Linked DNA regions of Homo sapiens: region 1 is linked to region 2. Evidence: fine-mapped expression QTL. A gene starts in region 2. The other region holds a variant in brackets. All regions are shown on one strand. Distances are from middle to middle. Region 1 holds the start of LOC124906290 (a long non-coding RNA gene). Region 2 holds the start of MRPS22 (mitochondrial ribosomal protein S22).

Evidence for each region. PIP is the estimated chance that this variant, and not a neighbour inherited with it, causes the effect.
Region 1: its variant is fine-mapped to the expression of MRPS22 in fibroblasts (GTEx, PIP above 0.99). The same link has a PIP of 0.9 or more in hippocampus, spinal cord and substantia nigra.

Annotation. Positions count from the first base shown.
Region 1 is chr3:139,274,601-139,286,764 of GRCh38, reverse strand. It overlaps LOC124906290 (a long non-coding RNA gene), which reads right to left and starts at 5,162. Exons shown (of 2, transcript XR_007096115.1): 1 at 4,930-5,162; 2 at 1-4,234. RefSeq lists a silencer at 3,210-3,401. The variant G/C (reference allele first, on the strand shown) is at 5,149.
Region 2 is chr3:139,337,379-139,348,826 of GRCh38, reverse strand. MRPS22 (mitochondrial ribosomal protein S22) reads right to left here and starts at 4,807. Exons shown (of 8, transcript NM_020191.4): 1 at 4,629-4,807; 2 at 1,783-1,949; 3 at 503-667. The coding sequence starts at 4,800. It overlaps LOC124909439, which reads left to right and starts at 7,954. Exons shown (of 2, transcript XM_047449421.1): 1 at 7,954-8,257. The coding sequence starts at 8,129. RefSeq lists enhancers at 4,200-4,319, 4,330-4,429, 4,406-4,700, 4,660-4,749.

The DNA of each region.
Region 1 (12,164 bases), 62 kb after region 2:
TAGGCACCCTTTGGTTAGGCAACCTGAGAAAGGGGTCTGGCCCCACCCTACCCCATCTCCACCCACTGCATGAGTTTGGATTGCATCTGTTCTGTCCTGATCCCTTGCATTTCCTCTCAATAGCAACGTGTGGTCAGAGCTGGGACAGACACTTGACTTTACTGACAAGCACCTTCTGGAGGCAACACAGTTGGGTGGAGTAGAGCAAGAGTCAGGTGTGACCCAGGTGTCTAGTACAGGTGCTGCCGTCTACACTGCATGGAGCTGCCTGTGCCACTCCCTGTCCTGCTGGGAACTTCAGGTGATGTCTGCATATGTCTTCCTGAGTGAGATCCACAGTTCCCGGCACTGCCATGGCCACACCTGTACCCCGGGCACTCCTCCCATTTATGCCACAGGTGTGCCCCTCGGGAGCACAGGAGTGGGGTGAAGGTCTGTGAGTTCCATTCTACACCAGAGCAGTGGGACAGAGGGTAGTGTGAGAGAACAATATGCTAGGGTGAGCCCCCAAAACCCATGGTGGATGGCTGGTGGGCATGCTGGGGAGGCCGCCTTGGACTCTGGGCTGCTGGAGACACTATGTGGAATGGGCTCTCCCCCAGGTATCAGCGGGGAGGGAGGTGTGCACACCATGTATCCGTGCCACTGTGTGCTCCGCATGTGCACACGTAGTATCTTGTATAACCCTTAGAGTCCTCTTTCAAGGTAGGTATTCATTTCTCCTTTTTACAAAGAGGAGAGAGGATGGGTGGGGCCCAGCATGTCACAGTTAGAAAGCAGCCACACAGGGATTAGTCGGGTTGAGCCCAAAGCCTCAGGGCCCCCATTAGCCTCTGCCATGGTGGAGAAGCAACAGAGCAGCCCCTGTGGGCAGCAGCTGTGATTCCTCCTGAGGGGCCACCTGCTCTGCCTGAGTCCTCATTGTGGGAAGGACTCTTGTGCCTGCACTGTCCTTGGCAGCCACACAGAAGCACTTGGATCTTTGGTCATCCACAAAGCCTGTACATGACCTCTACGTCCAAGATGAGCTGGTGAGGAGAGGTTGTTATCACCATTGCTCCCATTTTCAGGCAGGGAAAGCAGAGTTCAGGGAGGGGCCCTGCCCAGGTGTGCCCCAACGGGTAAGTGAGGAAGCTGGACTTGGGGCCCAGCTCATGTGGACAGGCACTGTCAGCTAGATGTGCTGAGATATCAGTGAGAGCAGAGGTCCCGAGGAGGGTGTGATGAGCATGTTTTAGTCCTCAGGGTGTTAACCAACATTACTTTAAATTAATGTAAACTTCATAGTGCAGAAGCATACATAATAAGATATGCATGTCCCCTCGACAATGCCAGTCACCTCCCCAGAGGTAACCACTATAGTAAAACGGCCAAGTCTCCATCCAGAGCTTTTCTATGTACTCACAAACACCTACAAGCACTTCTAGACTAGATTTTTGTTTTGTTTTGTTTTAGAGGCAGGGTCTCACTCTGTTGCCAGGGCTGGAGTGTAGTGGCAAGATCATAGCTCACTGCAGCCTTGACCTTCTGGACTCCTGGGCTCAAGCAATCCTCCTACCTCAGCCTCATGAGTAGCTGAGACTATAGGCACATGCCACTGCACCCATCTAACTTTCTTTTATTATTAATTTTTGTAGAGACGGGGGGTCTCACTTTGTTGCCCAGACTGGTCTTGAACTCCTGGCTTCAAGCAATCCTTCCACCTCGGCCTCCCAAAGTGCTGGGATTACAGACATGAGTCAAAGCAACTGGACAGATTTTCATTTTTAAAGAAATGTTCAATATTACATATATTGTGCTGTGACTCGCTTTTTTTTTTTTTTTTTTTTTTTTTTTTTGAGACGGAGTCTCACTCTGTTGCCAGGGCTGGAGTACAGTGGTGCAATCTCAGCTCACTGCAACCTCCACCTCCCAGGTTAAGCGATTCTCCTGCCTCAGCCTCCCAAGTAGCTGGGATTACAGGCGCCCGCCACTACACCCAGCTAATTTTTTGTATTTTTACTAGAGACGGGGTTTCACCATGTTGGCCAGGCTGGTCTCGAACTCCTGACCTCATGACCTGCCCGCCTCGGCCTCCCAAAGTGCTGGGATTACAGGCGTGAGCCACCGCGCCTGGCCAACTCACTTTTTTTATTTAATATTTCATGGGAATATTCCACATCAGTATATAAAGTTCATACCATATTCCTTTTCGGCAGCAGAGGCTATCCAAGAATAAAAGTCATGCAGTCTGATTACTCACAGAAGCTAGTGCTGAGCTATGGCCAGTTCCTATCCATCTGTAGGCTGAGGGAGGAGCCGCTGGCCCAGCTGCCTGTCAGACTGTCCCACATCTCAGGCAAGGCTGTGAGATCACCCCAGGCTTCCCTTAGGGTGATGCTGGCATTGGTGTCCTCCTGCCTGGCCCCACCCCCCATTCCCCAGGCTCCAAGTACCCTCGTGCTGGCTTGAGTCTCTCCAGTCCATTTCCACTGGCCCATGCTGGGGTATCTGAGGCCTAACGTGCTACCCTTTCTGGGAGTGTGGGCATCCTAAGAGGAGGCAGTGTCTTTACTCAAAGGAGCAAGGCCTGAATCAAGGCATAATGGCAGGAGAGGTGCAGAGACAGGCAGGGTGCAGAGGCCTGCTAAACTTCACGTGGTAGTGCAGATGCCCCACAGATCCTGCCTTCATGCTGGTCCAGCCTGTACCCCCTGTGTGAAGATGTCTGCTGCCCACTGGGTCAGGCTTAAGCAATCTGTATCAGTACACTCAAAGCCCTCCAATCTGGCCCAGTCTCCTGGCAGGCATCCTGGTCTCAAGGCCCCCGTTATCCTCCACAGGAAAGGGCTTTGATGCAAGGGGCCCTCCAGCACTGGCAGCTGTAGGCTCCAGGCTCACCCCTCATCTTTCTCTCCCTCTAGCTCCAAGATGCCATAGCTGAGCTCCCATACTTCACTGATACTCAACTGCTCTGCAGGCTCCCGTCTCTCTGTCATTGTCCTTGGTCCCCCCTCCACTTGGAATCCCCTTCCATCAACCTGTTGAAACTCTACCTGCACCCCGTCCTCTCTGGAGAATGGTCTCAATAGCCACCACCACTCTCCACCTCAGGCTCCCCTGACATCCAAGCTGTCTATGACAATCAGCACCCTCTGCCTGGCAGATCCTATGTCAACCCAGCTCCTGTCCACTCCACCAGACTGCAGGTCCTCAGGACAGGGACTGTGTCTTACTCCCACCCCCAAAGCCCAGGCAGGGCCTGGCACAGAGCAGGTTCCCAGTGGTTTCTCGCCCAGGTGGCTGCAGCCCCGGGCCCAACTCCTCCTTCACCAGCAGGAAGCACCTCCTTGGATCACAGGGAAGCCCTTACGCCACAGTTCAAGACTGTGCTGATCACAGTGAGGAAAGTACAGTGTGGCTGTTCACTGTGGTTTCTCTCCTTGGCTCCTAAACATTGACGAAGTATCTACTATGTGACAAACATCATGCTGGTTAAATGATCACTCACTTCAAAGAGTTTGCAGTCTAGTCAAGAAGCAGATAGTGTCCTGGTAGAGGAAAGCTGTGTGTGTGTGTGTGTGTGTGTGTGTGTGTGTGTGTGTGTGTGTGTGTGTGTGTGTGTGTGTTGAGGAGGGGGCTCTGAGAGCACAGCATAGAGAGTTGAAAAAGCCTTCTTGGAGGAGGTGAAATTTAACCTGAGTTTTGCTGAATAGAAGTTTTCCAGGAAGAAAAGGTTGGGGGAGGACATTCCAGGCAAGGGAACAACCTGTGCGAAGTCACAGAGACAAAGTGGAACTGCACAGGGAGCCTCCTGTCACAGCACTGCCCACTCTGGCTGTGACAGTCTCCCCTGCCCAGCCCAAGCATGCTGCTCGGGAATACTTGCCGAGTTATGCTGAACTGAGTTCCCTTCTGCTCTGCTGTTGCTGAGGGAAGGTTCCTGAAACGGAGAATGGGATGAGACTTCCCAACACTCTGACTGCTCCAGAGGCATTTTCCACTTCCAAATGTTGTCTCTGTGTGCCTGGGACAGCTCTTCTCAGGGGCACAGCAGGCCACATCTCCTGGCCAGGGTGCCCCCAGCTTGGCTCCATTTGGAGACTCAGGCCATTAGAAAAGAGGGCAGCAATTGAAGGGATGGGTGAAAGCAGCCAAGGCTCAATGTCTCAAGCCCTTCTGTCCATGTTCAGTCCTTCCTCTCACTTGCTGGGTGGCAGTGTCTGCATCATTTCCCCTCTCTCAGCCCTAGCTCCTGAAATTGCAATGAAGTTATTTCTGATTAAAGATCCCTACAGACACGATTGGAACAACAACTTGGTACACTGACAGACTTGTGCATCTTCTTAGCAGTCTGCATCCCCTGCTTCCCTGGAAGACATTCTGCCCCTCCCTCCATCATCTCCTCAAGGCAGGGCTGGGCAGGCACAAGGCTAACCGGCCACACATCAGGCAGTACTTCCTCTCTTCCCTTCCTTCTTCTCCTCCATGCTGCACAAAGTCTTTGACCTGGTTCTTCTCCCTCTGGGGAGGACCTTTCCAAGCACTCACATGCCCTCCTGGCACTTTCTCATGAGCCAGGTGACCTCTGAGAATTCTGCCATCTCATGCTACTCAGAACTGACCAGTGAACAGAGCAGGGAAACCAGTTAATTGCTTCAGAGGCCAAGGTGGTCAGAGGCCCTGGCGAAGATCTCAGACTACCTGGGTCCAGGCACACATCTGAGAGCTGTCCCAGACCTGCCTGCTATAGGCATTGCCCTGTGGCACCCACAGCCCCTGGGAAGAACAGGCACATGCACCTCTCCTGCCCTGGTTGCCAGAGATGCTGGCAAGAAACCCATCTGGAGTCGATGCTGCACACTCACAGCCAGCAGCATCTGCCAGTGGCGTGACCTGGCCCATATTTCGCCAGCAGTGAAGAAAAGAGAAAGCATCCCCCATCCTTACCCGCTCTAATTGCCTTCCTTCCGCCTGCAGGGAGGGAAATTGCCTCGTTCTGCCAGAACTTTGCCTCCAGGAGGCTTTCAGGAGAAAGTCTTCTTCCAGAAGAATGGCTTCCTTTGGCATCTGGCAGGGCGTGTGCAGTGCGTATCCTCAGCGTCAGAGGCAGAGTCAGTGCCGGCCATGGCAGGGGGCGGGGAGGTGTAATAAGCGGAGACAGCTGCC[G/C]CCTCTGTTGTAAGGCCAGCATTGAGGAGCCGTTGCATAGATAATTGGGGCGATGTCCTGGTACACTGAGGAGATCCACTTCCAGATGGCACTGAGGGACCACTTAGAACAATTAGCCAGGGGAGATGACTCCACCTGCTATTTTTAGAGGGTACCACATCTGGAGGTGGTATCTTTTGGCTGGAAAAGTCTGCACCAAAGGCAGAGGGATTTGCATAATCTTCCATGATCGACTCATCAAGATTTCTCCACCCATCAAGATGTTTTTAGCTTTTCAGATGACAAATCATTCTGGTGTTTTGTGCATGGCGCCTGGCCCTAGAGCAGCCTCCAGATTATCTTTTTAATCAGTGCTCAATGCCATACTGGAAGGAGAGGAGAGAGCCATGCAGTCTTGCTTCCTGTGGCCCAGTTTTCCAGCTCTGTCCATAGGAGGTGGTGCTGAGTGGCTGGGAACCAAGTCTCAGGCATGGCTGGGGTGCTTCTCTGGGCTCATGGATCTGTTTGCTGGGAATGCAGCTGAAATGTTGTCCCAGGATCCCCAGGCAGTAAGCTTCAGACAATGAGACCAAGGGGATATGGATTTTGGAGTCAGACAGATGTGAGCTCAAATGCCAGCCATTTGTTGTGGGCTTGGGTGAGCCACTTCACTCTGCTGTGCTTTAGCTCTCCAGCTTAAAACGGGAGGAGACCTACCTTGGAGAAGCAGAACTAAACACGCTGCAGGGGATGGTGTGGATTTTCACACAAGACCTCAGTAGACAAAGCTGTGCCTTTCTTTATTTCCCAGCATAGCTTTGCACTTGAATCTGGGTCCATTCATGGCTGGAAGCCCTTGGGCCGCTTTGCAGGAGATCCAGCCTCTTTCTTTCTTTCTCAATCAATTCTTGGTCAACTTAGGTCAATCTAACACTCCTTCCCTTTCTCTTCCTTTTTTTGTCCCCTATGAGATGGAAGTTCCAGGCATTAGAGGGATTGACCTAGGTCAATCTAACACTCCTTCCCTTTCTCTTCCTTTTTTTTGTCCCCTATGAGATGGAAGTTCCAGGCATTAGAGGCAGAGGCAACTGCCTCTCCCTCCAGTCAGCCCAGATGTCCCTTGCCTGGCCTTTGACCATTGGCCCCTGGCCACACTGTGACTCCCTGCTACCACATCTGCACATTTCCACTTCTCTGCTCACCAAGTCCATGCAGTCACTTGGTGTCCCTCTTGTTCTGTTGGAAGATGTCTCCAGATCTGCCTGCCCTTCTCTCAGTTATATCCTCACCCAGTGGGGCCCAGTAAATTCACAGACACTCCCCTACACTGTTTCAGAGGTTCTTGATGTCGCTGCCAGACATTTCTTCCCTTTCTTCCTTACTAGCCTGACAACCACCCCCCCCACCACACCTCTCTCCAGGAAGTGTTACCTGACCACAAGTTTACTCAAACCAATGGCCTTCCTCTGCAGCACAAGCAACGGGCCCAAGCTCCAACACTATGTCTGAGTGCCTGGACCGTCTGATGTGTTTTCTTACACTACCAGCTCACACTGGTAGATCTGGGTCCCCATTGGGAAGTCCTGAGAGTAGCTACAGTCCTCTCCTGCAGCCTGGCCAGGGCTCAGCCCCCAGCCCAGCCTGCACTATGCCATGCTGTGCTCCCCTGTGGCGGGGCAGGGTTGTTTCTTTGACTTTCCTACTCTCTGGTATTCTCTAAGCTTTATACAGTCAACACAGATCACTCTTTGCTCCTGAATGTTAAAGAATGTCTTTCTGATTTTTCTTAAAGTTAAAGCAGTCTTGGATGACGAGCTGTCCTTGAGCCCCCTTACCTAGAAGGTAGGATTGAGGTATGATGAAAAGTGTGGGCTTTAGCTCAAATTCTGACTCAGTTCCTTATGTTGACCTTGGATCATTTTTATTTCCCTCTTTAACTTCAGTGTCCTCAACTCTAGGTGGGAATAACAACCACACATCCCTCCCAGGACTGTGGGGCCCTCAGCATAGCACTCTGCTTGGAGTAACTGCTCAGAGGAGGGCTGTCACTATTATTGTCATCTTTGTCCCACTGACAGAGCCAAGTTGGGTGGACTCATTCCCAGGAGCATATGGCTTCTCACGCTCACCCCAGTCAAGCCCCTGGGCACTCTTCATCAGCAGGGCCACCCCATGGCAGGGGAGGCACCATTGTGATGAGAGGTAGCCCCCAGTTTCAGGAAATGGAAGATCTCAGGCTCCCGGGAGAAGTCAGATACCCCCACACTGCCACCATGGTTCACCACTGGAGCCGCTATGGAGAGGTGGCTCCTTGCCACCCCACATTCCCTTCATCTCCCATGCCTTCTTCCAACTGCCCAATCCTCATCAGCTCCCAACTCCCTTTCACCTCCCCAAATCCCTTCTATCTCTTTTTTTTTTTTTTTTTCCAAAACGGAGTCTCACTCTGTCGCCCAGGCTGGAGAGCAGTGGCGCGATCTCGGCTCACTGCAAGCTCCGCCTTCTAGGTTCACGCCATTCTTCTGCCTTAGCCTCCCGAGTAGCTGGGACTACAGGTGCCCACCACCACACCCAGCTAATTTTTTTGTATTTTTAGTAGAGATGGGGTTTCACCGTGTTAGCCAGGATGGTCTCAATCTCCTGACCTCATGATCTGCCCGTCTCAGCCTCCCAAAGTGCTGGGATTACAGGCATGAGCCACTGCGCCCAGCCATACCCCTTCTATCTCTTGCAAAGACAAACCCACTGTCTTAAAGTAGCCCATTTCATGTCCATCCAGAAATACATCTTTCCAATCCAGCCTAGAAAACAGCTGCAAACAAGGGAGAAGGCCACAAGAGAAGCCCTCAAAGGGCATTTTGGGTGTCCATGTAAGGACAGGGCTCAAGAGACCAAGGTGCCACGCAGAAACAGAAGCCTGGGGCTTCTGACATCAGGGCCAGCCCTGGTGCAGGTGTAAGTCCAGGAGTGCCTTCTCCCAGGCTGCCACAGCAGGAGCTTTCTGGGGGCAGATTTTCACATTGGTCAGAGGCAGCTTCCTGGAGCCTTAGGACCAGTGGTCATTGGCCTACAGGGTGGCAAAAGGCAGAGCCAGGCAGGAAGGGGGCAGTGGGAAGTGTACCCCACCCAGGCTGCTACCTATGGTGGGCACACAGCTGAGCCATCTCTGGGAGCCCAGCATCTCCCAAGTCATGGCCTGGCCTAGAATAGGAGGAAAGAAGGGGCTGGATTCTTACCTAAGCCAGCTGGAGCTGTGAAACATGGGAATGAGAAACTCAAAAGTAGACAACACAGAGCGAAGGTTCATTTAGTCAGGAGCTGGAATTTTCACACCAGCTCACATGATCTTACATTCACTCTGGAGGTGTGTAAGGTCTTCTGAGCCCTGTAATCAGATGGTAAATGTGAAGCTCAGAGACATCAGTGATTTGTACAATGTGTAGATGTATGATTTGGGGGAAGTGGCTTAACCTCTCTGGCCTTCAGCATCTCCCGTTAAAGCTCTTTCCTTGCAAGGCTCTTGCAAGGAAAAGAGAGGAAATACACATACAATGGTCAGCACTGTGCCCAGCCCGCAGAAGGTGCTATGTACATGGCCATAATCTTTATCAGTTCCAGGGAAGGTCCAATTTAGCCTGGTAGAGAAGAAAAACGGGGAATGTGGGCCCTCCTATGGGGCAGGGATGGCAGGGCTCACACTCCCCTTCGAGAAAAGAGACTTTGGCTAGGCATCGCTAGGGTTTCCCCTGCCCAAGAAGTCTTTAAAATTTATGCCATATCCCAGCCACTCCAAAAAGTGAACATGATTCTCATTTTATCAATTAGGAAATATATTAAGAGAGGTAAAATAACTTGCTAAATGTCACATAGCTGAGAAGCAATAGAACGGGCTTTAAAATTAGGTCTTCCTAATTTCAAATTTAAGTTCTTCCCAAACACCCTACTGCTTCCCAGAGCTCCAAAGCTGAATTCAGAGATAACTTCCAGCCACCTCACTTTAGCCACATTTCTTCAGGAACTCATAGCCTTTAACAAAAATATATTGTGAAATATGCCATACTTACAAAAGAATACTTTAATATAAGTATATAATACAAGGAGTAATGAAATTTATATGTACTTAAAAATAATGTGTCTTTGATGCAGTTTCACCAAAATGTATGTGGTTCTGAATTCCTACTTTTCTTGTTTATGATTTGTTATGCTTCTAACATCCAAGTTTTGGTGTCTTTTAACAATTCTGGGAAAATGTTAGCCATTATTTATTTGAATACTGCCTCTTCCCCATTCCCTCTATAAACATCTCCTTCTGGAATTCCAAGGACCTCCACACACTATGCTTCATGTCATAACCTTACTTTCTTCTTGTTCTTATCTTTATCTCTCTGACCTGCATACTGGATAATTTCTTAAGAATTATCAGTTTATTAATTTTCTCTTCAGCTGTGTCTAATCTGTTGTAAATTCATTTGCTGAATTTTTTAATTGTTATATACATTTTCCTAGTAGTTCCAGGTTTTTTACAAATCTGCATTTTTAAAAAGTGTCCTGTACTGTGTTCATACTTTTAAACATTCATTTCTTAGAACACACAGTTATTTTTCATGTCTGTTTATTTTAATATCTGAAGTTTTTGTAGATCTGATTCTACAGTCTATTGTTTCTGTTGGTTCTCACTCATGGTCCCTTATCTTCTGGTGTGATTTTATGATTCTTGACTGGAACTGAAATCCTCATTGGAACTTTACATCTGTGGGAAATCTTTGAGGCCTCAGCTGAACGTGCCATTTTGCAAAGATAATTTGTTTTTGTTTCTGCCAGTCACTTGTTGGGAAGCACCAACTTGGGACTCTGTTGAATTAAATTTTCTGCTTAAGAATTTCTGACAACGTATGAATTTGGATCATGTATCCATGTGAGAATCGACTTTTGGTTAAGTATTCTCAGGAGAATTAACTTTTTTCTACATGGGACCAAATTGTCCTTGCTCTCTTCTATGCAGCAGATTTATTTCTTAGTTACTTTTACATTGAAAGTGTAGCTATTGAGGCCCCAGCATTATGCAGGGGTCTTTTATTAGACAATCCACTTGGGCAGGCCCCAGGGCCCCATTATTTACCTATTTTCTCCCATTCCAGCTCAGCATCAACATGCAGGCTTAAAGTCACCAGGGGATGGTAGATCCTGGAACAAAACCGGCACTGTGCTCCATCATCCTGTGTTTACACTCTCCACGCAGTTTCAGTCTCTGTGACCCTATACTTTCTTGTCAATTCAGTCGTGTATTAAAATTTTTAAAATATTTTGTCTGATAGATCATTGTTTTCATTTGGAAAGTTGTTCAGGGTATTTAAGGCCCCTTGCTCCAGAAATGGAAGTCCCTGCACAGAGATTTTGGACAAAAATATAAAGTATTTCCTGCCTCAAAGCTAGATGCAAGCAAATTTAGACTGATGGTAAATATTTTTCTAAGATACTTTTTCTAAGATACCACTTTCCCTTTTCTATCCTCCTTCCAGTAATTTTCTCCATCCTTAAATATATTTGTTTCTCACTGTTGCTCTTCCCTTTCCCTCACTAGAAAAAAAAAAATAAACTCATGCTAAAGTGTTAATGACCAAAACCAACTTACCTCTACTCCTTAGTATCCTGTGTATCAGGAAACTTTAAAATTTTTCTTTTCTTTCAAGATTTACATTTTGAAAGGATCCTGGAGTTGATAGTTTGATTGAACGGAGTGACTCTCCGATTTTAAATTCTAGGATGCCCTTTCAGCCAGGGAAGAGCTTTCTCCAAATTGTCCCCAGACCAGACTGCTTAAAGGCCATTCCTTTGGTCCCTAGAGCCCACAATGTGTAAGGATGGTCAAGGAGTTCATTAGCTTCTTTGTTAGCTGCCCAGCCACACCCTCAGAGTTCCAAAAGCATCTCAGCCCCTCACCTGGCGGACCCACCAGGAGCTGTGCACATTAGCACACTAGATCTGGCCAAACCTGCCAGCGGGGTTTAGAAGCCTACACAGCTTATTCTTCTCTGCTGACTCTTACTAGTACTTCTCATCCTCCCTCCTGCTTCAGGGGAAATAGGGTCACTGATGGATGCAGAAAGAAAAATGGATTCCAGTGTTTTCAAGACAGAGAGCTTAACCCCAGTCTCTGATAAATACTTAAGGCACATTTCTGTGTGAGATCTTGGGAAAGCACACAAGCCCCTCACATAGGCTCTGACCCAGACAGAATCAGTGCCCCCAGATACCCCCGCCCACCCTTGTAGAGCATTGCCCTCTCTTTCATCCTGGTCACCTACCTATACTAGGCATACTCAGGGGCCTGGACAGCTGCCTCATCTGCTCCTTCCCCTTTGCGGGGTGGTTCAGGGATGTAATCTGGGCAGACTCTCAGTGGCAGCTTGAGAGACCTCAGGTAACATGTGCATAAAAGCTCTCTGAGACCCACTCTCTAGTTTAGGGTCCATTTCTCCCTGTTAGTGGGGTTAGGGGATACCAGGGGCTAGAAGGAGTAGACAGAGGTAATGGGAAGGTGAGGAACAAACACAGGCCTTTCCTGGGCTTGGCCTGTCAGATAACCCTGGCCCACTCATACACGAGTGGATGGTGTTCTAGTTATATAGTGCTGCATAACAAACTACCCAAAACGTAGTGGCTTAAAACAACAATTGTCATTAATTTCATTTATGAATATGCAAAATAAGTAGAGCTTGGTGGGGGTAGCTCATCTTTGCTCATCAGCTAAGGCAACTCAGTTGGGGTTGGAAGATCCACTTCCAGGATAATTTACATGGCTGGAAAGTTGGTGTCAGCTGCCGGCTGGGAATTCATCTCAGGCTGTTGGCTGGGGGCTTCTTCACAGCATGATGGTTGGGTTCCAAGAGTGAATGTTCCAAGATGTCAAGGCAGAGGCAGCAAGACTTCTCATGACTTAGGCTTGGAAGCCCAAGATACCATTTCTGCTGCATTCTAAGTCACTAATGCCAACTCATATTCAAGGGACAGAGGACTAGACATCTCTCAGTTGGAAC
Region 2 (11,448 bases):
ATGCCTGAAAATTATCTGAGAAACATCTGTCATTCTTACTGAAAATTCTGGAAAGCGAAAATCCTTTATGATGCCTGAGTTTCTTGGCATCATCAAGGAATTTATAAGACAGAAACATTCTATCTTCTCAAAAAGCTTCAGCTAAAGAAATCCATCTAACTTAGGCGAAAAGAGTCTCCTGCTTCCATTGCCTTGTAGATTTTTGTCCATTTGTGGTTTGGGATGGGTTTCTGTCTGTATCTGTGTACTCCTTGTTCTGCCTCAGCACATCTGGAATCTGGAAAATACTGTGCCTATTATCTGCTGAGAAATGGTAACACCATGATGTGGGGCTGGTCTGCATTTCTCATCCCTCATATAGTATATCTTCCAGAAGGGTCTCACCCAGTCAGAGGAAATCTGGTTTGGACGCATCAGAGACAGCCAGGTCACATCATCTCTCAAGCCCTTCTCCACATAGTATTTCAAAGAAAGATCATTTTGCGATTAGACATATACTCACCCGGTGTGGTATGCTATATGATATATCAGTAAACACATATTTGGTTGTTTCTGTTCCTTCCAAAATCTTATCTTCAGCTAACACATCATTTATTGGTACTCGCTCTTCCAGAACTGGTGGCATTTTTAATCGTACTTTAGCTGCCTCAACTGCCTGTCTTGTAGCCTAATGAAAGAAAATATTTATTAAGGAAAGCCACAAGGTTACATAATATAAGGATCATCTGACAAAAGCACATACTAATAAAAAATGCAAAAACCTGCATAGAAAAGAAGGTGTAGCCACAAATCAGTGAGTAAAAAGCCAAACCTGGACTTGTGAGCCCTGGCCTTTGCCTCTGCGATGTGGCTGAGACCACCAGCTATAGACTCAACCGTTATCAAAACCACAAAGGCATGCTCTGAGACAAAGCCAGGCTACAAAAGCTGCTTGAAACAGAATAAAAGAATGCAGTTTTGGGGTGCTTACTATGTGCCAGATAGTGTTCAAACAGTCTAAATGTATTTGGCTGATTTAATGGCCTCAATTACCTTATGAGTTAGGTGCAATTGTTATCATCTCCATTTTACAGAAGAAAAAACAGAGGCATACAGATGTTAAGTAAATTGCTAGAAAATTGCAACACTGGTATTTGAACCTAGACAACCCAACTTCAAAGCCCATTCTCTTAACCATTGACTACATTGCTTCATGCCATACTGTTAAAAGCAGTTACCTCTAGGAGGTGAAAAGATGGACTTTTACTCTTCATGTAATCTACTACTGGAGAGAGATATATATATTTTGCTGACTATAAATTACTTTTGAATCAGAAAGACGAGTATTAATGCTTTACGTATTCATACATCAAAGTGTTTTCCACGCAGCACTCAGTACCCATGGTACTGAGGACACTGGTGCCTGGAAAACATGCTGTTTCCATGCAGGATCTCACAATCTCCCCAAAGCTTCAGCCCCAAGGCAGATCACAGTAGATGTTTCTCCAGGAAGGAAGCTGGAGCAGGCAGAAAAAAGGAGGGGTGCTCAGGCTGCCTTGAGAGGAGAGAGGATACTCTCTGAACACCCAGACCTGATCCATATGCCCTAGTCTGCTCAATTCCAGCCATGCTCCCTGCCCCTCTCTGGCAGCCTACTCACATTTCTTTTCTCAGTTCTATGCCTGGTATTACCTTTCACTAGTGCCTATGGAAGAATAGCTATAAGCATCTGGAGGGGCCTCTAGAAATGTTGTTTAAACCCTTAAAGAAAGGTATTCTAACAATATTCCTGCATTCACGTACCTCTTCCAACTGTGCCTGAGTCATTAGCTTATAGGTTGGTGGCTTCAGTTCTTGTATAGCTGGCTTAAAAGTCTTCTGCAAGTTCAAGCCTGTCATTTTCGTGAGTATGCTTTGAACTTCCTCATCCATAAATGTAGGTTTCTTGGTCTCTGGGCTACCAGATTCTGCTAAAATGGACTTTAGTAAATAAGAAGCTGACAAAAATGACAAGCTAACAAGACCTCTAAATAGAAAAGTCAGTTAACAATAAAAAGCATTAGCACAATGTCTACCTTGGCACTGCAAAATGCTAATACCTATGAGATGCATTCATTTATTTCTTCATTTAAGATTTACTGAGCACTCATTATGATGAGGAGATAGACTCGGTCTCTGCCAAAAGGACAGACTACTAGAGGAAGTAACAGTAATAAAGTAATTAATGTAATAACTGTAATGGTTGCTGCCACTTACAGAGCTGTCTCCTATATGGCAGGTATAACACACATTTTCAGGAATGCTTATAACCACTCACAAAATAGGTACTGATAAACCCAATTTTATAAATGAGGATGCTGAAGCCTATCCAAAGACAACTAGCTATTAAGTGATAGAGTCAAAATTTAAACCAAGGTTTGTCTGGTTCTGGATCCTAGATGGTTTCCAATTTATCATAGCGCTCCTCGGTATAAGTGGGAGGTGTGGGGAGACATAATGTGAGAGGTATGGTATACAGGAGAGGTACGGGGCTTGGGTGATTGCAGAGGAAGAAACTAAGCATAGCCTGGACTAGGGATGGGCATGACAGGGTCAAAGAAAGCGTCCCAAGAGCCTCATCACGGCAGAGAAAAAAGGGAGGGAAAGTCTAGGCTAAGAGATTGCAGCTAGGAAAGAGGCTTGGTTCACTGGACATGATACTGAAGAGGCCGTGTGTTATCATGGAAGAGCCTTTGACATAAGCAGAGAATCAAATCTTAGCTCAGCCTCATGCAGTTTGCTTATTGCTTTGCCTAACTTCTACTTCCATTTCCATTAGCAAAAAAGAAAGAAAAAGCCATTTGTTCCTAGTCACCTCTTCTTCTCCTATAAATGTTGGTATCCCTACAGATTCTGAACGATGTCCTTTTCTCCCTTCTCAGATTCTTACTCGATGATTTCTCCTATCCTGCCACGACTTCAATTACCTTTATATGCCAGAAACTCTAAAATCTGAATCTCCTGCCAAGATCACCTTCCATCCAATTACTCAACCTCTCTCATGTACTTGAATACTGCCAAGTCAGAACCCATCAACTTTCCCTTGTCTCAAACCTGCATTTTCTGTTCCCTATCTCAGCATCATCCAGTAGGCCATACAGGCCAGAAATCTTACAGCCATTCCTAAATTCTCCCTGATCCTCCAGATCTAGCCAATAGCAGTAGTAATAACAACAACAGTAATCAAATAGCTGTAGTAATAATAACAGTAATTATAAGAGCTACCATTTATTAGCTATTTACTACATGCCAATACTGACTGAGCTAAGTACTTTACACATTCAGCCCATTTAATACTCACAACAACCCATGAGGTAAACACGAAGATTATCCCAATTTTACAAAAAAAAAAAAAAAACAAAAAAAAAAACACCACTGGCAGAGAACATACTGATTGTTTGCCTTCATAAATCTCATTTTAATCCTCCATTTCCCACTGCCACTACTCTAGTCAAGGCTATCCTCATCTCTTGCATCAGCCTCCCTTTCTCCATTCTGGCCCCACTACAGATCATTCTCCACAGAGCAACCAGAGTAATCTCTTTAAAATGTAATCAAGATTACTCCCAAGCTTAAAATTCACGAATGGCTTCCAACCTCATTTAGAAAAAAAGTTAAGGTGGTCTGCTTACCTACACTATGTCTCTCACTAAGTGATGTGCTCTATGAAGACCAGACCTTGTCTTATACTCATCTCTGGCACCCAGGGTTCCTCAGGGTATCCAGCACACAGCAAGTGCTCAGCACTACTCTCTCCTCAGTCTCACCCATTCACTCACCTTTAGTTACCATTTTTACTCCGATGTTCCTCACTTTATATTTAACTCCATACTAAACAGTTGACTCTTAAAGTCACCTCAAATTTAATGTGTCCCAAATAGGTTTAATTCCGCCTCCTTTCCCATCTCCTGATCTCATCTACTCCTGCACTACCCCCGCCCCCAAAATAACGGTTCCAACAATTAATTAATCTTCTTCATCTTGGTGTAAATGGGACAACCCTCTATTCCAATCAAAAACTTAAGAAACAATCTTAATTTGTCCCTTTAAACTCATATCCAAAGCCTTAATCAAGCCTTATCAATCCTACCTCCAAAATGGGTTCCCAAATATCTGTGCTCAGTCTCATTTCTGGACATCTGCTACTGTCCCCTATGCTTGAGAAGCTTCTTGCTTTCTCCTTAGCATGGCTAACCAGATCTCAGCTTTGGTCATATTTGCCAGGAACCCTTCCCTGACCTTCCAACCTAGTTTGAGTGCCTCTCCTGTGTGCGTCCCCTATAACAACCCGGGTCACACTGCACTGCCAATTCCCCATGGACATGAGTTCCCACAGGGAAATGTCTGTGTCAGTCTTAGTTTGCCATATCCCACAGAGCTTAGCACAGTGCTCTGCACGGAGCGGAACTCAGGCACTGTAGTTGAGTGAGTGAACGAATGAACAGATATGCAGGTGATGACAAACTCTACAGGTACAGAAGGAAGACAGCTGAATCTGAGGAAGCGCTAGGATACGTGTCGCGGGGGCTATCGCGTGGTTTTCGCCTGCCAGAAACAGGATCTACGTCTCCCAGAAGAACGCCCCAGCGAAAGTCCGGAAGGTCACTTACCGGCCTCGGAGCTGAACCGGCGGCGTGGCAGCCCCATCTCGAAAGAGCAAGGTAGCGGTTGGAGCAGGCCACCGTGCCAGGGCTGGATTCGAGCCCGGAAACAGACCCGTTCCACGCCCGGAGAACTCCTCAAGAGGCTCCACAGCAATACAGTTGTTCCGAGGGGCGCCATGATTATCAGAAGCCACTTGCGCCGGAAGTGGTTGGGAGGGATTCCGAGTCACACCCAGTTCTTGCAGCACTCTGGGAAATGTAGTCTAGTTAAAGGCGGAAAGGGCCGGAAGTCTTCCGGGCCCTTATAGATTGTTTCTTCTAAACTACTTATTCACAAGTAGACGGTGTTTATGTCCTTCCCTATGCATAAAGTTAAAACTTACACCTTTTTCCCTATATGCTCTTTTTCCTACCCGTTTCCATCGTTCTAAATAACAAATTTCCGGCCAGGCGCCGTGGCTCACGCCTGTAATCCCAGCAGTCTGGGAGGCCAAGGCGGGCGGATCACCTGAGGTCAGGAGTTCGAGATTAGCCTGGCCAACATGGTGAAACCCCCGTCTCTACTAAAAATATAAAAATTAGCCAAGCATGGTGGCGGGCGCCTGTACCAGGAGAATCGCTTGAACCGAGGAGGCAAAGGTTGCATTGAGCCAAGATCGTGCCATTGCACTCCAGCCTGAGCAACAAAGCAAGACTCCATCTCAAATAAACAAACAAACAAACACTCTAGCCTGGGTGACAGAGTGAGACTCTTGTCTCAAATAAATACATAATTTATGTATTCCACTTCCTGCCCAAACCTTCTCCCCCATCCTCAGGTTTAAATCCAACTACTTCTTAAATTTCTCCATCCACACTGCTCACATGCACCCTAAATCTAACTCCTGACTCCAAGCCCTGATTACCACCACCACCACTGCCACTGCCAATTCATACACCTGATTCTCTGTCTCAACACTTATTCCTTTCCTTTATAGCCCATTTTATAATCTGTTATTTTGCTCTTTATCTGCTTATTTCTTTTTCTCACCCCATGAACACAGTGACTCTACATATTTTATTGCAATATCACCTAGCCTAGTACATCTACGTGCACAGCAAACTTTTGTTGAATAAATGAATGAATGATTAAATGATTCTTTACATTTTTTCCAGCTATCCAGGATGTGCAGGTCTTATCCTTCTCTAGACTATAGATTGGTGCCTGTGCTAAGCACTTATCCCAAGGCCTGGGAAAACAGGGTGTTAGTAAACTCTTGTTTGACTTAGCTGGATGAATAGACTCACCTTCCAGCCTCAGCTATTTTCCCCCAACTTAGCATTAATATTAACAGTGCTGTTTATGAACTCATTCCCTATTTGGGAGGGGAAGGGAGAGCACTAGGCTTGGTGCCTATTTAGGCAAGTCTGCTGCCCTGCACTTCCCAATGCTTACACCTACATGATAGCAGGTGTCAGAGACTAGTGGCAGGATGAATGCAGGTGTCTCCCAGCCCATGCCTTTTCTCTGAAAATGAACCCTCTACTTTCTTCCCATAGCTGAGGGAGCAGGCCTCAGTGGCTATGTTTTTCCTGTAAACATCCTCCTGGACACAGCTGATTGGACACTTAGTGCAGGATGAATGAATCCATTGGCTGCTGTATTAGCATTAGTTTCCTGTGGCTGCTATAACAAACTACCACAAATATTATGGTTTAAAATAACAAAAATGTATTCTTTCACAATTCCGCATGAGAAATCTGAAATCAGTATTACTGAGCTGAAATCAAGGGAGCTCTGCTCCCCTTAGAGTCTATCTCTGGAGAAGAATCTGCCCCTTGTCTCTTCCAGTTTCTGATGACTGTAAACATTCCTTTGCCTGTGGCTGCATCATTTCAATCTCTGCCTCCATCTTCACATCAGCTTCTCTTCTTCTATTTGTGCCAAATCTTCCTCTGTTTTCTTCTTATAAGGATGTATGTGATTGCATAATCACTGACCCACCCTGATAATCCAAGATAATCCCCATTTTAAAATCTTTAACTTAATCACATCTGCAAAGACCATGTTTCCATATAAGGTAACATCCACAAGTTCCATGGATTAGAGTGCAGTTATACTTGGGAGGAAGTATGGGGGCATTCTTCAGCCTACCCCAGATGACCAGGCACCAAGCAGATTTTTTCTCAATAATTCAAACTATGAGACATAGAATAGTCGACGGTGGAAGCTTGAAGTGAATAACTAAGTATTTAGGGTTTGGGCTGAAGCAGCCTTTTTCAGCAATGTGCTCACTGATGAGTGAGCAGGGAAAAGCCACTCTGCAGAGAGAGGCAGGAAAATGGAGCAGATCCTCAGAAGCAGAGATGGGAGAATATGTACGGAGAGAGATGGAGAAAGGTGGTGTCTTGGCCAGAGAGCTTCCCACTTTCCTTTCAATGACCTCTTTTACTTGGGGTACAGTGAGTTTTACTGATATGGAGTAATGAAGATTCCTGGTTTAAGCTATAACCTCAGGCAGATGCCCACATCTTTCAGAGCCCCAGTACCTCACCTGCAAAATGGGCATAATGACAATACTTATCTTGCAAACTTTGAGAATAAAGTACTTTCAGGATCTGATGTCTGGTGTTTCATAAAGATGGTGTGAGAAGGTTGTGTGGTGGCAAGTCAATTACTTTCTTTTTTTCTTTTCCGTTTTTTTTTTTCTTTTGAGACAGGGTCTTTCTTACTTTGTCACCATGGCTGGAGTGCAGTAGCATGATCTCAGCTCACTGCAACCTCTGCCTCCTGGGCTCAAGCAATCCTCCCACCTTAGCCTCCCAAGTAGCTAGGACTACAGGTGCACACCACCATGCCCAGCTAATTTTTGTGTTGTCCAGGCTGGTCTTGAACTCCTGGGCTCAAGTGATCTGCCCGCCTCAGCCTACCAAAGTGCTGGAATTGCAGGCATGAGCCATGGCACCCAAGTCAGTTACTTTCTGAGGATGGTATTCAGAAGTACTCTGGTTGCAAGAAACAAATCTTTCCTGAGTAAAACTGAAATGGGAGTAATTGGAAGGATACTGAATATCTCACAGAATTCAAGAAAAAGCTCAACAGCCAAGCCTCAGGAAGGACTTGAAAGATGGCAGCTCCAAGAACCCCAGAGGCAGGAACTCAAGAGATCTCTCCAGGAGGTTGCAGTCCTAATGGCTTGGTTCCAACTCCCTGCCTTCCATCCAATCTAAGTTCCTGGTGAGAGAGGCTGATTGGCCTGGGTGGGGTTCTGTTCACCACTGGGGGTTGGGGAGGGTTGGCCCTCTGACTGACAGTCCCAAGGCTATCTGGCTGCAGCTACTGTTAGGATTCATTAGGTCATATCTTCACCAGCTCTGTGGAGCAAGCATGGTTTTCTATTATTTGTAAAACAAAAGTATAGTGATGCCTCAGTGGGGAGTGCCTTATCCCACTCTCAGTGATTTAACAGGGTCTGGACTTCTGTTTTTTAAAAGATATATTTTATCCTAAGCTTTTAGAAGTCAAGATGGGGTTAGGGGATAAAAGTCAGGGAGAGGAATGGAGAGAGGAAGAACAGAGCCCAAGGAAGAAAGGTGACAGTCTGGACAACGCAAGAACCCCTGCGGTCTCCAGCAACCACACTCATGTGACTTCTGTAAGTCTTCAATTCCCTATCCTTGAGGCCTCCCAAAAGGTCCACATCCACCCCACTTTTGACTTCACCCAGAGTTTTTATTCTTCTGGCCCCTATTCAAAGTCCAAACCTCTTACATGTTCCTACAGAGACACAAATTCCATGGCCGAAATTCCCCTTTGTGTGCTGAGAAGGGACTGGTAGCAAGGAAAAAACCAAAGATCCAGTAACGAGAAGGGACAAGTGATGTTGTGGATCCCTGAGGAAGCTTCAGGGGATGAAGATTCTAAGTGGAGGCATTGGTAGTAGATGCAAAGGAGCCTTTGCACCAGTAGGCCAGGAGTTAAGGATGGTTAGAGTGGATACGTTTTGGGGAGAGAATCAGAGAGCCTTCCTGCCTCTCTGTCCCTTTTTCTGAGCACTGGAAAGCAAAATCATTGGTCGAGAAGAGGTACGGTTGTGTTGGGAGCTATAGGAATGAGCAGTTTGAAGTATCTGCTGGGGCTGGGCACATGGCTGGGATGCAACCTGCTGAGCAGTGGGACAGTCAGTAGCAGTGCAGAAGAGGAGATAATTCCAGAGAAAGAGGGGAAACATCAGAAGACATTCCTGGAAGCCTGTGTGAGGGTTTGCCTGAGCAAAAAAACCTTGAACAATGGTAGGAATGGTTGAAGATGTGATGGCCCAAGCCCCTTCCCTCTCACTCAGAGTGCACTGTCTTCTCATCAGCCCTGTTAGTCTTCATGGCAAATTAGTGAGGCAGACAGGGCAGGCACTGATATTCCCATCTTTTATATGCATAAACTGAGGCTCTGAAGTTATGGGTCTTGCGCATGACCACCCAATTTATTCCATGCAGTGACAAGGCTGAACTCTGAGGTACCTGGCAGCTCTTATGGTGGAAAAGCTCTGTTCTACATGTGTTCTATGGGGTGAAGAAAAACATTGACACTTCCAGAAATTACATAGACTGACTTCTGAGCCAGAATATGGCCCAAAAGAGAGAAGGAGGGAGACTGTCCTCCACCACAAGCCAGTGGGGGCGGATGAGTCAGTTCCTCTAACCCTGGAGTTATCAGTTTATCTCCAATTTTCCACGTGACACTCTGTCCTTTTTCTTCTGATAGCATCCACTGAACTACAATTCTACACCAAACTGAACACTTGAAACAGAAAATGATTGCCAGGGGCCAAGGCTACATCAGTCTGTGATGACAGACAGACCCTCTGTCCTATAGCACAGGGACATAAATGTCAAAGGCACTAAGGCTGGCTGCTACTTGCCACCCCAGCTGCCCCCAAAGGGACTTGGGCCCAGAGCAGTGGCCCCATGACACAGCGATCATGGATATGTTTTGTAATAAATGGCACTTGGCTCCCCTGCTCCCAAGATCTGGCTGCTGTCAGGTTTGGTGTGGAACATTTTGTCTAAAGGACATGCTGGCCTGGGTTGAAAGTAATTCCCATCAGCTCAGAACTGGGTGGTCTGTCACTAGGTTATTTTTCAATTTGATCTGGACTCAGGAAGTCCCTCAGACTGAGAACTGGTATTTTCAAAGGTTAATAAGCCTGTCAGAAATTTCTTTCATGGGAAAATGTGATGTATCTGATTGCCCTGACTTGCATGCAGCTCCCCCAGGTCAGGGGCCTGGGCATAATTTCACTTGAGACTTAGGACTTCAGTGTTTTGAAGATTCTTGGGGCCTGGCTGGGAGAGGCTGGCAAAAGGATGTAGTGGTGGCTGTTTGCAGGAAGCCAGAGCCAGAAAGGGAAAATGTGTGTTCTTAGGACTAAGTGTGTGCCTCTGTGTATGTGCAACCACATATGTGTGTGCTCAGCTGTATGTGTCATGCAAGCGTGTATGTGCATAGGTGTGTGTGTTCAGGGGATACATGTGGATGCATTTGTGTATGTGTGTGGCCATTTTTGTATGCATGCAAATGTGTGTATTCAAATATGTGCATGTGCGTATGTGTACCCATGTGTGTGCAGGTACATTTGTATACATGTGGTTGAGTATATGCGTGTGTGTGTGTGTGTGGCCTTACATGGGTGTTCAGGTGGAAATACATGTGTTCACATGTGTTTATTGGCTTGGGAATGGGATACATTTAATGGTAGGAGCACAGGCTTTGGAATCAGACAGACATGGGTTCAAATACTAGCTCCGCAACTTATTAGCTATATGAGCCCATTTTACTCACCACCTGCTAGTTCCTCCTCTTTAAGATGGAATGATAACAACTTCCACATAGGACTGGGGTGAGGGTGAACAGACAGGAAGCAGATGGTGCTCTGGCACACAGTCAGTGGCCATCAAGTGGTAAATAGTATTATCACTATTACTATCATCATCTTCATCATTCTCATCCTCATCCTCATCATCATCATTCTTGTTCCATCTCATCTTATTCCTTATGAATGTTCAGTGGCATTCATTCTCCTCCCTTAGAAACTGTCCAGGGATGCAAACGTTCCAGGCTGAAATGAACTGACTTGACCTAGCAGTCCATAGAAATGAGTGATCAAACGAAGTCCCCTCACCCCTTGTGACTTTTGCTACTTTAGCAAATCACAATTTCCCCATCAGCTGAATTGTACCAGTAAACATCCTTGCTCAGTGAGTTTCCTTCTATGCTGGTAATTCTTGTAGGGATGAAAGTAATCAAACATTTGTTGACCACCTTCTGCACACTCAGACCTGAGACAAACCCTGTGGAAAATACGGAAAGAGAATACAGATATCCCGAACCTCAACAATTTCCCAGTGGAGTTTTGTTTTTTAAAATAAATAGGTTTATATTTTTATATAAATAAATAAATAGGTTTATTCAGGTATAATTGGCATACAACAAACTTCACACACTGAAAGCATATAATTTGATAAGTTTTGACGTATGTGTCTGCCATATAACCATAACCACAGTCAAGATAATGAAAATATCCATCACTCTGAAAACTTCCTCATACTCCTTGGTAGGTAATCCCTTCCTCCTGCTGTTCCCAAATAACTCTCTCCCCTGGAAGCCACTGCTTTCTTTCACTTTGGATAGTTTGCATTTTCTAGAATTTCATATAAAAGGCACCACAAGTTTATATTCTCTTTTGTCTGGCTTTTTGCACCTAATATAATTATTTTAAGATTCACTCATGGTGTCATGTGTATCAATAGTTTGTTCCTTTCCTTTCTACTGCTGAGTAGTATCTATCGT